Regions from separate parts of the Homo sapiens genome. Here region 2 is linked to region 1. The links come from fine-mapping of genetic effects on gene expression. Tissue or cell type: whole blood. Region 1 holds a variant in brackets; the other region holds the start of a gene. All regions are shown on one strand. Distances are from middle to middle.

The links. PIP is the estimated chance that this variant, and not a neighbour inherited with it, causes the effect.
Region 2: it holds the start of SPG7, and the variant in region 1 is fine-mapped to the expression of SPG7 in whole blood (TOPMed, PIP 0.98).

The regions. Positions count from the first base shown.
Region 1 is chr16:89,316,940-89,322,174 of GRCh38, forward strand. It overlaps ANKRD11 (ankyrin repeat domain containing 11), which reads right to left. Exons shown (of 13, transcript NM_013275.6): 3 at 1-139. The coding sequence starts at 80. LOC128462377 reads right to left here. Exons shown (of 2, transcript NM_001416403.1): 2 at 107-136. The coding sequence ends at 107. LOC100287036 (a long non-coding RNA gene) reads left to right here and starts at 3,513. Exons shown (of 4, transcript NR_168302.1): 1 at 3,513-4,288. RefSeq lists enhancers at 84-675, 676-1,267, 2,529-3,041, 2,986-3,365, 3,042-3,555 and a silencer at 3,886-3,965. The variant T/C (reference allele first, on the strand shown) is at 2,547.
Region 2 is chr16:89,505,087-89,510,321 of GRCh38, forward strand. SPG7 (SPG7 matrix AAA peptidase subunit, paraplegin) reads left to right here and starts at 3,317. Exons shown (of 17, transcript NM_003119.4): 1 at 3,317-3,514. The coding sequence starts at 3,332. LOC101927863 (a long non-coding RNA gene) reads right to left here and starts at 3,234. Exons shown (of 5, transcript NR_188547.1): 1 at 3,151-3,234; 2 at 873-1,061; 3 at 1-67. RefSeq lists an enhancer at 762-811 and silencers at 2,631-2,700, 2,821-3,030, 3,101-3,660, 3,691-3,810.

The sequences.
Region 1 (5,235 bases):
CCAGTCTGCTTCTCCACCATGTCGCTGCTGAGGGGAAGCTCTTCCTGCTGTGGTGCTTTAGGGCACCCACCCTTGGGCATCGTCCTGCTCCTCACCCGATCTTCATTTACACGGCCGGCGCTTCATCATCAACCGTCTGCTTCAAAAGAGAAGACACACAATTCACTGAATTCAGAGGCAGCTCAAAACTCATCCACTCTCACACCGCACTCAACAGACTCAGTAACTAGTCAAGGCAGGCAGCTGCTCTGATCAGGGCTGGGGCCCGGGCCAGGCCCAGGAAGGGACTTCTCAGGATACGCCTCCCATAAAGGGGTCACCAGCAACAGGAATGGCAGCTTTGAGCAGGAAGGAGAACAGAGAAGGGTCAAGCACTTTGTAGTGGCAGAAAGGGACGCATGGCCTAGGGTGTGGCTGTGTTCTGGGTGGCAGTCAGCAGCACCTGGATCCTGGGTCCCACCTGGTACAGGCTACACCCAAAACGGTCAGGCACCACAAGGCAGTCCCTTCCCCGCATTACAGGCAAGGTCACAACACGCAGCGCAGTACCCCAGCCCTCAGGTCTGGCAGGTCATGTCCACAGCCCCAGCCTCACGCCCCACTCACCACCTGGGAAGGAGCTCCTGTCCCCACCAGGCCTGTGCTTTTTGCACACCCAGTTCCCTAACTTGGTAGGCAAGGGGTGTCTCTGAGCGAGTCCCAGCAGCTCCGAGGTCCCAACTCCACGCCCATGGAAGCAGACGCCCCCTCGGGCCTCAGGCTCCAGCTCCTGGGTTTCCCAGGAAATCCGAGGACACATACTGTATTAATTGTATATTATTTTTATTTATTAATCATGTTTTATTTTAGGAAATTTTGCCATCTTAACAAGTTTCTGGCCAGGGAGAGACTGCCCCTCTCTCAGGGCTGGCAAATTCCTAGATAGCCAAGGGCTCCCATGCAACCCAATCACCTTCTTACCCAAGTTCACGCCCAGGCCAAGCCCTGCCTGAAACCAGCGCAGAGCCAGGTAAAGGAAACTAGAAAGTGTCCCTACAGCACAAAGCCTGCAAGAACTTTCCGAAGCAGCCACTCCCGAACTATTTGCTCTGCCCCGTCCCTCTCTTTCTGCAGGAAACCCAACAGGCAGTTGGGGGAGGCCTTCCCCGAGCCCCTGCTTCCGACTCCCACCCCCGTGGTGTGAGGCTGCCCCTCTGCGACACACGGTGCGAGCGCACTTCTTCCTTCCCAGCCTCGTCCTGGTCTCTTCTGTGGCGATGCCAACTTCCCCACGCCACGCCTGGCATGGACACTCTCGGAGCATGGGCCTCCTCCCTGCCTGTGGGCCTTCTAGGTTTGTTCACCATCACAGCCAGGCCTCCCGGGTGCACTCACGAGAGGAATGGGGGACACACCTACACACCCACACCCAAAGCCACTGTCCCCCCATCATGTCCTCGCCGCACCGTCAGTTAGAAAACATTTCATACAAATGGAACTGTGTGCACGTCTCTGCCCTTTCCGCCACAGCAGCACCTCTGTGCGCGACCATGCCGGGAGAAGCAGCTTCTGCAACTCGCTCCCCTGCATTTACCCATCTCGCTCATGCACGAAGTATGGCTTTTGAAACACGATGTGCAGACCCATCTGTGAGTGGCAGCTCCACTGTGAGCCTCTCCCACCTCCACCCCGTCAGCTAAAGGATACGTTGCATGCCACCTGCCCCTGGACGCAGGCTTGGCTGAGACCACAAGATGCTTCTCCTCCAACACCATCTCATGACCTGCTTTGTCTTTCTAAAATAAATGATAAAATCCCACCAACTGCTGTCTTGGTATTTAACTGGTACAAGAACACAGGTGAAGTTATTCTGGAGAGAGGGACAGGTCGGGTCAACGTATTCACTGCCTGACACCTCCACCCGCGGTGCAGGTGAGCAGGTGTTTCCATCCACCATCCCTGATGCCTGAGGCCAGACATATTTTCTCTCTCTACCTGAACCAATGAATTTTACATTCTCTTCCAATTTTCCACCACAAAACCGGAATGTCTCAGCCTGGAGAAAGGGCATCTCAGCACCTGACTCGGAAGGCTGTTCAAGCTCATGGCTGTCTAGAAACTCAGTGGTAATGTTTACAAGTTTAAGGATTATCTGGAATTAACATTTTAAAAAATCCAGACTGTCTGCTCTCAGGACGGAAAAACGGGGCCTTCACCATGTAGAGTCCACCGTCCTGATCCCAGATGTGAGTCTGTGGCCCACGGACACACTCAACAGCTCTGGCGTGGTCAGGGCGCAGACCCCACGGCCTCCGGACGGTGTCTGGGCCCCGACAGTGCGGGGCTTATCACTTCACTCCTGAGACACCTGATTCTCTTCATGTCCCTAGCTTGGTGCTTTGCCCAGGCACCTTCCCCAATGGACCAGGGATCTGGGAGTCCACTCAGGAGGTGGAGGAAGTGGGTCGCACCCACCAGGCAAAATACTTTTCACGGCCTGCATCACAGCGAACACTCCGGGGACTCGGGAGTGTTGTCCCAGGTGTACGCTGTGTTTTCTGGAGACG[T/C]TTCTCCAGCCACCTGCACGATGACAGCTAAGACCATCCAGGCCGTGGCCCTTCCAGGACCCTCGTGTCCGCCTGGCCTTGGCTACAACATGTTACCGATGGCAGCGATGTGCTCGAGGCCCTGCAACCCCAGCCCCCGCCTCTCCATGAACCACCACCCTCATCACAGTCATGGAGATGGTGACAGCTGAGATGTCCTGCTGAAGCATCTGCTGGATGTGGATGAAGCTGGTTTGGATGTAGCTGCCATCTAGCCCAGGCTACACCTCCCAGGACCCGCCTGCAGGCACCAGGCGTGCAGCACGCGGCCCACTCTAGAGTCTTTTTCAATGAGAGACCAGATGAGGACAGAGGCTCCAGTTGCTTTTGTTCTGTTCCAAGACTTGCCATCCCAGTCCTCCCAGAAGCTGCCCTGGTGATGCCTCTGGCACCTTTGGCCCCCACACTGCCCTGTGTTCCCTCCACCAGGCTCAGGGCTGGTCAGCCTCACCCCTTGCCGTGAAATGGCAGAGCCAGCCGAGGGCCGAGGAACCGTTACTCAGCCGTGTCAGTGACTTCTACCAGGGGCTGCACGGCACTCAGGAGTCAGGCCAACAGGCTCTGCTGACTCATGGGTGTTGTCTGAGGGTGGGGGCTGTGATGATGTCCCCAGGCCTCCCTGGCAGGGCTGTCACATAAAACAGTCCTTGAAGCTGGGAGTCCCCTCTTTAGACAGTTCCGCAGCCCCTGTGCCTTCTCATCACGATGCTGCACAGCCGACCACACAACAGAAGGCACCGGGTCTCACTCCCGGGGGAGACTCTTCCCTGGAAGGTGACTTGGCTGTCCCTGCCTAGACTCATTTTAAGTGCAGCCTAAATCTCCCTCATTTCCAAGTTATCAGGCAAAGTCTATTTTAAACTCACGACCCTTGAATCAGCAGGAAACTGAAACACGCCTCAGGCCACTGGGGCTGACTCACGCCCTGTGCTGAGCGGCAAGGCACAGCCGCGGGAAGGTAAACGCAGAGCCGAGGGGCCGGCCAGCACCTGGCCCTGACCGCCCCCAGGCCACGCATTCCTTGTTACTTCACCTCCTGGCGGATGGCAACCGTCCCAGCTTCGTGGACTGTCAGGGTCACCGAGAGTCCAGGGTGGTGGGAGTCCCCCACACGAGCCACTGGCACACTCCCTGAAGCAGAAGCCACGGCGCCAAAGCTGTGGGCTCAGGGAACTTGCCCATTACCTGGCAGCCCCGCATCTGTGCCAAAATAAGACACAACTCAGCCCAGCGGAGTGGACAGTGTCTGCGGCCAGCTCTGGGATCCAGGGCCAGCTGATGCTGGGAACAGCCGTCCTTGCCCTGTGCCTCTCCACACTGCGAGAGCCCCTGCAGCCCAGAGGGGCTCCACCTCCCCTGCAATGGGGCTCAAAAGACAATCCTTCTACGGGGCTGGCAGGACAGACGTGACAGGAACAACGATGGCCTGCTCCTCCCGGAAGGTGGCTTCAAGAGCACTCAGGAGGTGACAGATGCTGTCAAGACCGGCCCAGGGAAGGCACAGGGCAGGTTTCCCAGCACCCACCACGCGCCAGCGAGCACAGAGCCTTCGCCTGAACCATCCAGGCACCGCGCCCTCCCCCTCCGCACACACAGGAGCCCAGCTGCGATTCCCTCTGCTCCACAGGAGATGCAGCGAGCACCAAAGAGCCTTCCTCCAGGATTAAGCCTGATGCAGAAGTGGTTACACTGACTACGGCAAGGTCAGTTTGGCAAAACCCCCAGGAATTTCAGCCTATCTGGTCTCTTCAGCTGACAAGAGCAGGCACTGGTGGGGAATCCGGCGCTGCCTCTCCCCGGCTTCTAGGATCTGAGCTGGGCCAGGACAACCCTGAGACACCTGTCGGGCGGGGCAGGACTGGGGCTGCAGGGCGGGACTGTGGGGAGGGGACTGTGGGGCGGGGCCTGCAGGGCAGGGTGTGGGGCGGGAGCTGCGGGGCGGGGACTGTGGGGCCGGGTGGGGAGCCGCAGCTGCGGGGCAGGGGCTGCCCAGGAGCACTCCTTGCCAGAGGCCTTGGCATCACCAGGGAGTCCGTGGACCATGGAGACTCACGGGTCCCCTCGGGCCTTCTGAACCCAAACCTGCATTTTAAGCATGTTCTGTTCTGCACACTAACACCTGAGAAGGACCGTATAAGAAAAAACTTGTAATGACACAACTAATCTTAAAACTCACAGAAAAAAAAAAAGACTTCTTTGGGGTTGAAATTCACCTTCAATAAAGGGATGGAATGTAAGCAGAGCTGACCATGAACAACCTGGGTCTGGGTTTGCACTGCGTGGGTTCACTTACACGCAGATTTTCTTCCACCTCTGCCTCTCCTGAGACAGCAAGACCCATCTCTCCTCTTCCTCTTCAGCCTCCTCAACGTGAAAACCCGGAGGACGAAAGCCATTCGTGGAGACCCGCTGCTGCTGCGCGAGGCTTAAGTCTATTTTCTCCTCATGATCTCAGTATTTTCACGTCTCTAGTTTGCTCTACCCTAACAGTAAGAGCAGAACACACATAACATACAAAATGTGTGTGACTGGCTTTATGTGGTCAGGAAGGCTCTGGTCAACAGAAGGCTGTTAGTTAAGTTTGGGGAAAGTTAAAAGTTCTACACAAATTTTCAACTGCACAGGAGGCTGGCGCCCCCAACCCCTGTAT
Region 2 (5,235 bases), 190 kb after region 1:
CCACCGGTCTCGGCCTCTCAAAGTGCTGGGATTACAGGCATGAGCCACCGCCCCAGCCAGCCTAGATCTTAAAATCAAAAAAAGTCCCAAAGATCAACTTCTGTCTCTGGAATGTTAAACGTTACTGTTTGATAGATGAGGCAACTGAAGTTTGTAGAGCACCTTGCCTGAAGCTTCAGCCCACAGCAGGAATAAGGGACAGAGCCTAGAATGCTTCTGCATCAACAGGGAACAAAGGCATGGGGTCTCCTCTCTGTCCACCTTCCCTTCCCACAGCCCAGGCTGAAAGGGCTGCCCTAGGCGCTCCTGAGGCCTCCTCTCTTATGGGGCTAGAGCTGAGGGAACCTGGGGTTGGTAGCCATCCAGAGACCTAAGGCGTGCCCTGACCCAAACCAGGAGTCACCAAGAGACTGCCTCTAGAGAATAGGCGGGGAAGGGAAGTCACACCAAGTCCAAGCGCAGAGTTCAGAGGGCTGAGGAGGGGTGACGCGGAAGTACAAATGAGTAAGCAGCAGTTAGGAAGTGTGCCAAGTCCTGACGTGCAGAGTTCAGAGGGCTGAGGAGGGGTGACACGGAAGCACAAATGAGCAAGCAGCAGTTAGGCAGTGCAGGAAGAACACACAGGCGGAGAAGGGAAAGCGAACGTCCTGCTCTGCTGCAGGCTATGAGGGCAAAGGCAGACCCGGGAGCCCACTGTCCTACAGATCCTTCTTCTTGAATCCAAATCATGCAGCAAAATAAAAACAAAACCCCCAAACCATGGGGCACCCGAATCCTTAAACAAAACCCCTACTGCTTGAGGCTACGTGAGCCTCTGCTGCTGCCGCCACTACAGCAGGGGCTGAAGCTGAGAGCTGAGAGTCACGGTTCACCTGTAGGGCCTGGGATGCAGCCAGCCTTCAAAGCACGGTTGTTAGAGATGAGTTTGAATAAATGCATAAATACTCTGTTCCCATATCCTCATTTCCCATGACGTCCCAGTAATAACTCTGGATGCCAAGGCTTCCTGGCTCGTCAGTTGCCCTCACACACATTTATTGCATTTTATCTTCATAACCACCCTGTGGGAAACCCAAGGCTGATATTAGCCTTGCTTTGCAGATAATTATCATCCCCATTTTACCGCTGAGAAGATTGAGGCTTGAGGAAGCTAATAACTTGCTTAAGGTCATAGGCCAGAGGAGACAGAACCCAGTGTTCTTTCCCCAGAGGAGGCCTCTTGCCAACACCCCACACTGCTTCTGATGAATTGCCAGGAAACAATTTTAACTTATCTCAAACAATATTAATAGGACTACACTTAAACTCCTCCCAAACACATCCAAATGTGTGCCCTCACCCTCTCTCCAGCCTTGTCCCGTGACCAACCCAACCAAACTTCCGAAAGGGTTTTTTGTGTTCTAGGAAGTGACCGAGCCCCACAACCCTTTATGCCTGTGCGTTCAGAGGATTTGTGACCTTTTTTTTTTTTTTTGAGATGGAGTCTCGCTCTGTCGCCCAGGCTGGAGTGCAGTGGCGGGATCTCGGCTCACTGCAAGCTCCGCCTCCCGGGTTCACGCCATTCTCCTGCCTCAGCCTCCCGAGTAGCTGGGACTACAGGCGCCCGCCACAGCGCCCGGCTAATTTTTCGTATTTTTAGTAGAGACGGGGTTTCGCCGTGTTAGCCAGGATGGTCTCGATCTCCTGACCTCGTGGTCCGCCCGCCTTGGCCTCCCAAAGTGCTGGGATGAAGGGCAGGGAGAGGGAGGGGGAGGGCACCGCGCCCGGCCCACCTGGTGTCTTTCAATCAGGGAAAGAAAAAATAGTGGAGGAGGAAACGGCAAGGTTGGATTCACTGCGAAGGCTGACTGTACAATAAGAAGCAAAAGGAAAAGCGGTTCAGTTGTGAAAATCAGTGTCAGCCCTGGGTGTAGGGGAAGGTCCTCTCCACAAACCAACAGAACACCTCCCCAGCCCCGAGCACCTCTGCCGAGGCACCCGGCCCACTGGAGGGCTGAGGGCGGATAACCACGATAACTGAAAACACTTTCCTGAGCGTCTCGGGGCTGAGGAAGAGGGAGGATTACACGCAGCCCACTGGCTTTGCAACCTCGTCTGTAGTGGTGGAGTGAGTGCAGGTCCAGAAACAAACCAGACCGGCCTTGAAATTCTGCCCTAACTTCAGAGCTGTAATCCTAGGCAGGTTACTTTTAATACTTCTGAATCTTTCTTTACATGTAAAATAGAGGTATTGTATTCGCTGCACAGGGTTGTGAATATTACATGGGTGTTCGACACGGAGCTAGGCACTCGGTGATGTTGGCTGTCGTCACTGGCATTCACTGTTACGAATTTGCGGAGTACAGAAAAGCATAAAAATAAATAGGTCACCCTCATCCTACCTCTGTGACAGACCATCTAGTCTTTGCTTTTCCTACTCAACAAGCTTTCCAGCTCTTGGCGTCAGCTCTAGACCTAAGGCGGACGGAGGAAGGGGTCGGGGTGGCGGAGGACCCCGCGCGCCTGGGAGCCCACGAGGGACCCTGCCCGGGCCCGGAGGGCGGACCCTGAAGAGAACAGAGCCTCTTCCTAAGCTTCCAGACGGCGCCTCCCCGCTTCCTACGATGGGCTCGCGCAGCGGCCGGGGCAGGACCGAGGCTCGAAGCGCCTCCGAGGTGAGCCAGTCCGAAGGCACAGGACGGAGCGCTCCGAAGTCAGAGGTGTGCGGGACGAGCTCTGCAGACGCCTGCCAGGCCGCGCCGCACTGCGCGCTCCCTCCCTCACGACCCTCCTCCTCCGGGGCTGCCCTCCCTGCGGCGGCTGCAACTTCAGTCCTCGTCCTCGGGCGGCTCAAGACGCAGGAAAACCGCCCCCTTCCTGCGCTCCTCACACCCGAAGGGGCCCTCCCGACCCGAGGCCTCCGGCGCCGCCCTCCTGAGCGCGGGCCTCTACTCGCAGGCGGGATTCCGGCCCGCACCATCCGCCCTCGCCTGTGACCGAACCCTGCGGGTGACGCAGGCTGCCCGGGCGTGAGGCCCCTCGGCGCGGGCGGAGCACGACCACGCAGCCACGACCCGGCCGGTTATTCACCCGCCAGGCCCTGGGAATACAAGGCCGGCTTCAAAAAAACCAGGGCACCCGCGACCTCCTCGCAGACGCGCGCCCCCATACCCGGGCCTCAGGCAGCCACGAGGTAGACGGGCTCAGGCTCGGGGGTGCGGCAAGCGGCACCCGGGCGCGGCGGGGCGCAGCTGTGGGGACCGCGCAGGCGCCACGTCAGACCCCGCCCACCCCGCCGCGCAGGCGCCGTGTAGCGCCCCGCGGATCACGCAGGCGCGGCTTTCAGGCCAACATGGCCGTGCTGCTGCTGCTGCTCCGTGCCCTCCGCCGGGGTCCAGGCCCGGGTCCTCGGCCGCTGTGGGGCCCAGGCCCGGCCTGGAGTCCAGGGTTCCCCGCCAGGCCCGGGAGGGGGCGGCCGTACATGGCCAGCAGGCCTCCGGGGGACCTCGCCGAGGCTGGAGGCCGAGCTCTGCAGGTAAATCCCCGCGGAGTCCGGGCCCCACCTCCCGCCCGGCTCTGCTCTGTAAGGCCCAGCCCGGCGGGGCGGGTCGGAGGCCGCCTGGCCCCTGCGGCGGGGGAGCCTGCGCCTGTGGGCCCGCGGATCCCCCAGCTGTGGACCTCGGCGCGGAGCGACTGTTGGGGCCCTGGATCGTGGGCGCTGGGCGGGCCGGGAAGAGGCAGGGCTGGGATCCGCGCAGTCCTCGGCGTGGACTTTCCCAACCCGTCTGTTGTGTGTGGATGTTCTCCGCCCGTCTTCCTCGCCTTTTAAAGTGGAATCCAGTAACGGTTTCCGGCGTAGCACTAATTTACAGTCCACGCCTGTGGATCGATTCCGTCACCAGGAATTCCAGCGCCTTCCAGTTAGGGTGGTTATTGCCGAGTAGGGGGCCCAGAACGTTTCTGTGTCCGCAAAATACCCTGTAGCTGCATTTTGCTGTTGTCATGTAGCTCGGCACGTTATTGATACAGTCATTGAGCACCCCCTGTAGTGCGGCCTTGTTTCAGGTTCTGCTAAGGATAGGATAGCATCTCCTCCCGAAAACCAGACCTTGTGTCCTTCAGCTTTTGGGCTGATGTTTTTTTCTCCTAGCCCTCGCCTAGGAGCTTAGCCCACACCTTTTAGGTTGTTGTTTTTTCGGTTATTTTTGAGACAGAGATCTCGCTCTGTCGCCCAGGCTGGAGTGCAATGGTCTTGGCTCACTGCAACCTCCGCCTCCCGGGTTCAAGCGATTCTCCTGCCTCAGCCTCCTGAGTAGCTGGGATTACGGGTGCGCGCCACCACACCCAGCTAATTTTTGTATTTTTAGTAGAGACGGGGTTTCACCATGTTGGCCAGGATGGTCTCCATCTCTTGACCTTGTGATCCGCCTGCCTCGGCCTCCCAAAGTGCTGGGATTACAGGGCGTGAGCCACCGCGCCCGGCCATAAAACATATTTAAATGGGAAAATGTTTATCTTGAAAGGAGAACTCTGAAAGTATATACTTGTTAACTGGTTTGGTACCTGGAAATGTTCTACAAGGAGCCACTCTCTGGTGACAGCAGGAGCCCCGTGTCTGGGCAGCCACTGTGGCCTTTGGAGAGCTGGGCTGCTCCCTTTCTCCTGCAGAAGCTTCAGGCCATGGGATAGCAGCCAATGTACTTCTGTGTTTTGTTTTCTTCTTTTTTTTTTTTTTTTTTTTTTGTGACAATCTCGCTGTGTCGCCCAGGCTGGAGTGCAGTGGCCTGATCATGGCTCCCTGAAGCCTCTGCCTCCTGGGCCCAAGCAATCCTCCCACCTCAGCCTCCCAAAGTGCTGGGATTACAGACATGAGCCACCGTGCCTGGCCACTATCGTGATTTTTTGTTTGTTTATTTGTTTGTTTTTTGAGATGGAGTTTCCCTTTGTTGCCCAGCCTGGAGTGCAGTGGTGCTATCTCGGCTTACTGCAACCTCTGCCTCCCGGGTTCAAGCGATTCTCCTGCCTCAGCTTCCTGAGTAGCTGAGATTACAGGTGTGCACCACCACGCCCGGCTAATTTTTGTATTTTTAGTAGAGATGAGGTTTCACCATGTTGGCCAGGCTGGTCTCAAACTCCTGACTTCATGTGATCCACCCGCCTCAGCCTCCCAAAGTGTTGGGATTACAGCCGTGAGCCACCACGCCTGGCCAATTACTGTGTTTTAACCTGTTTACTTGCTTTTGACATTTTGATGTT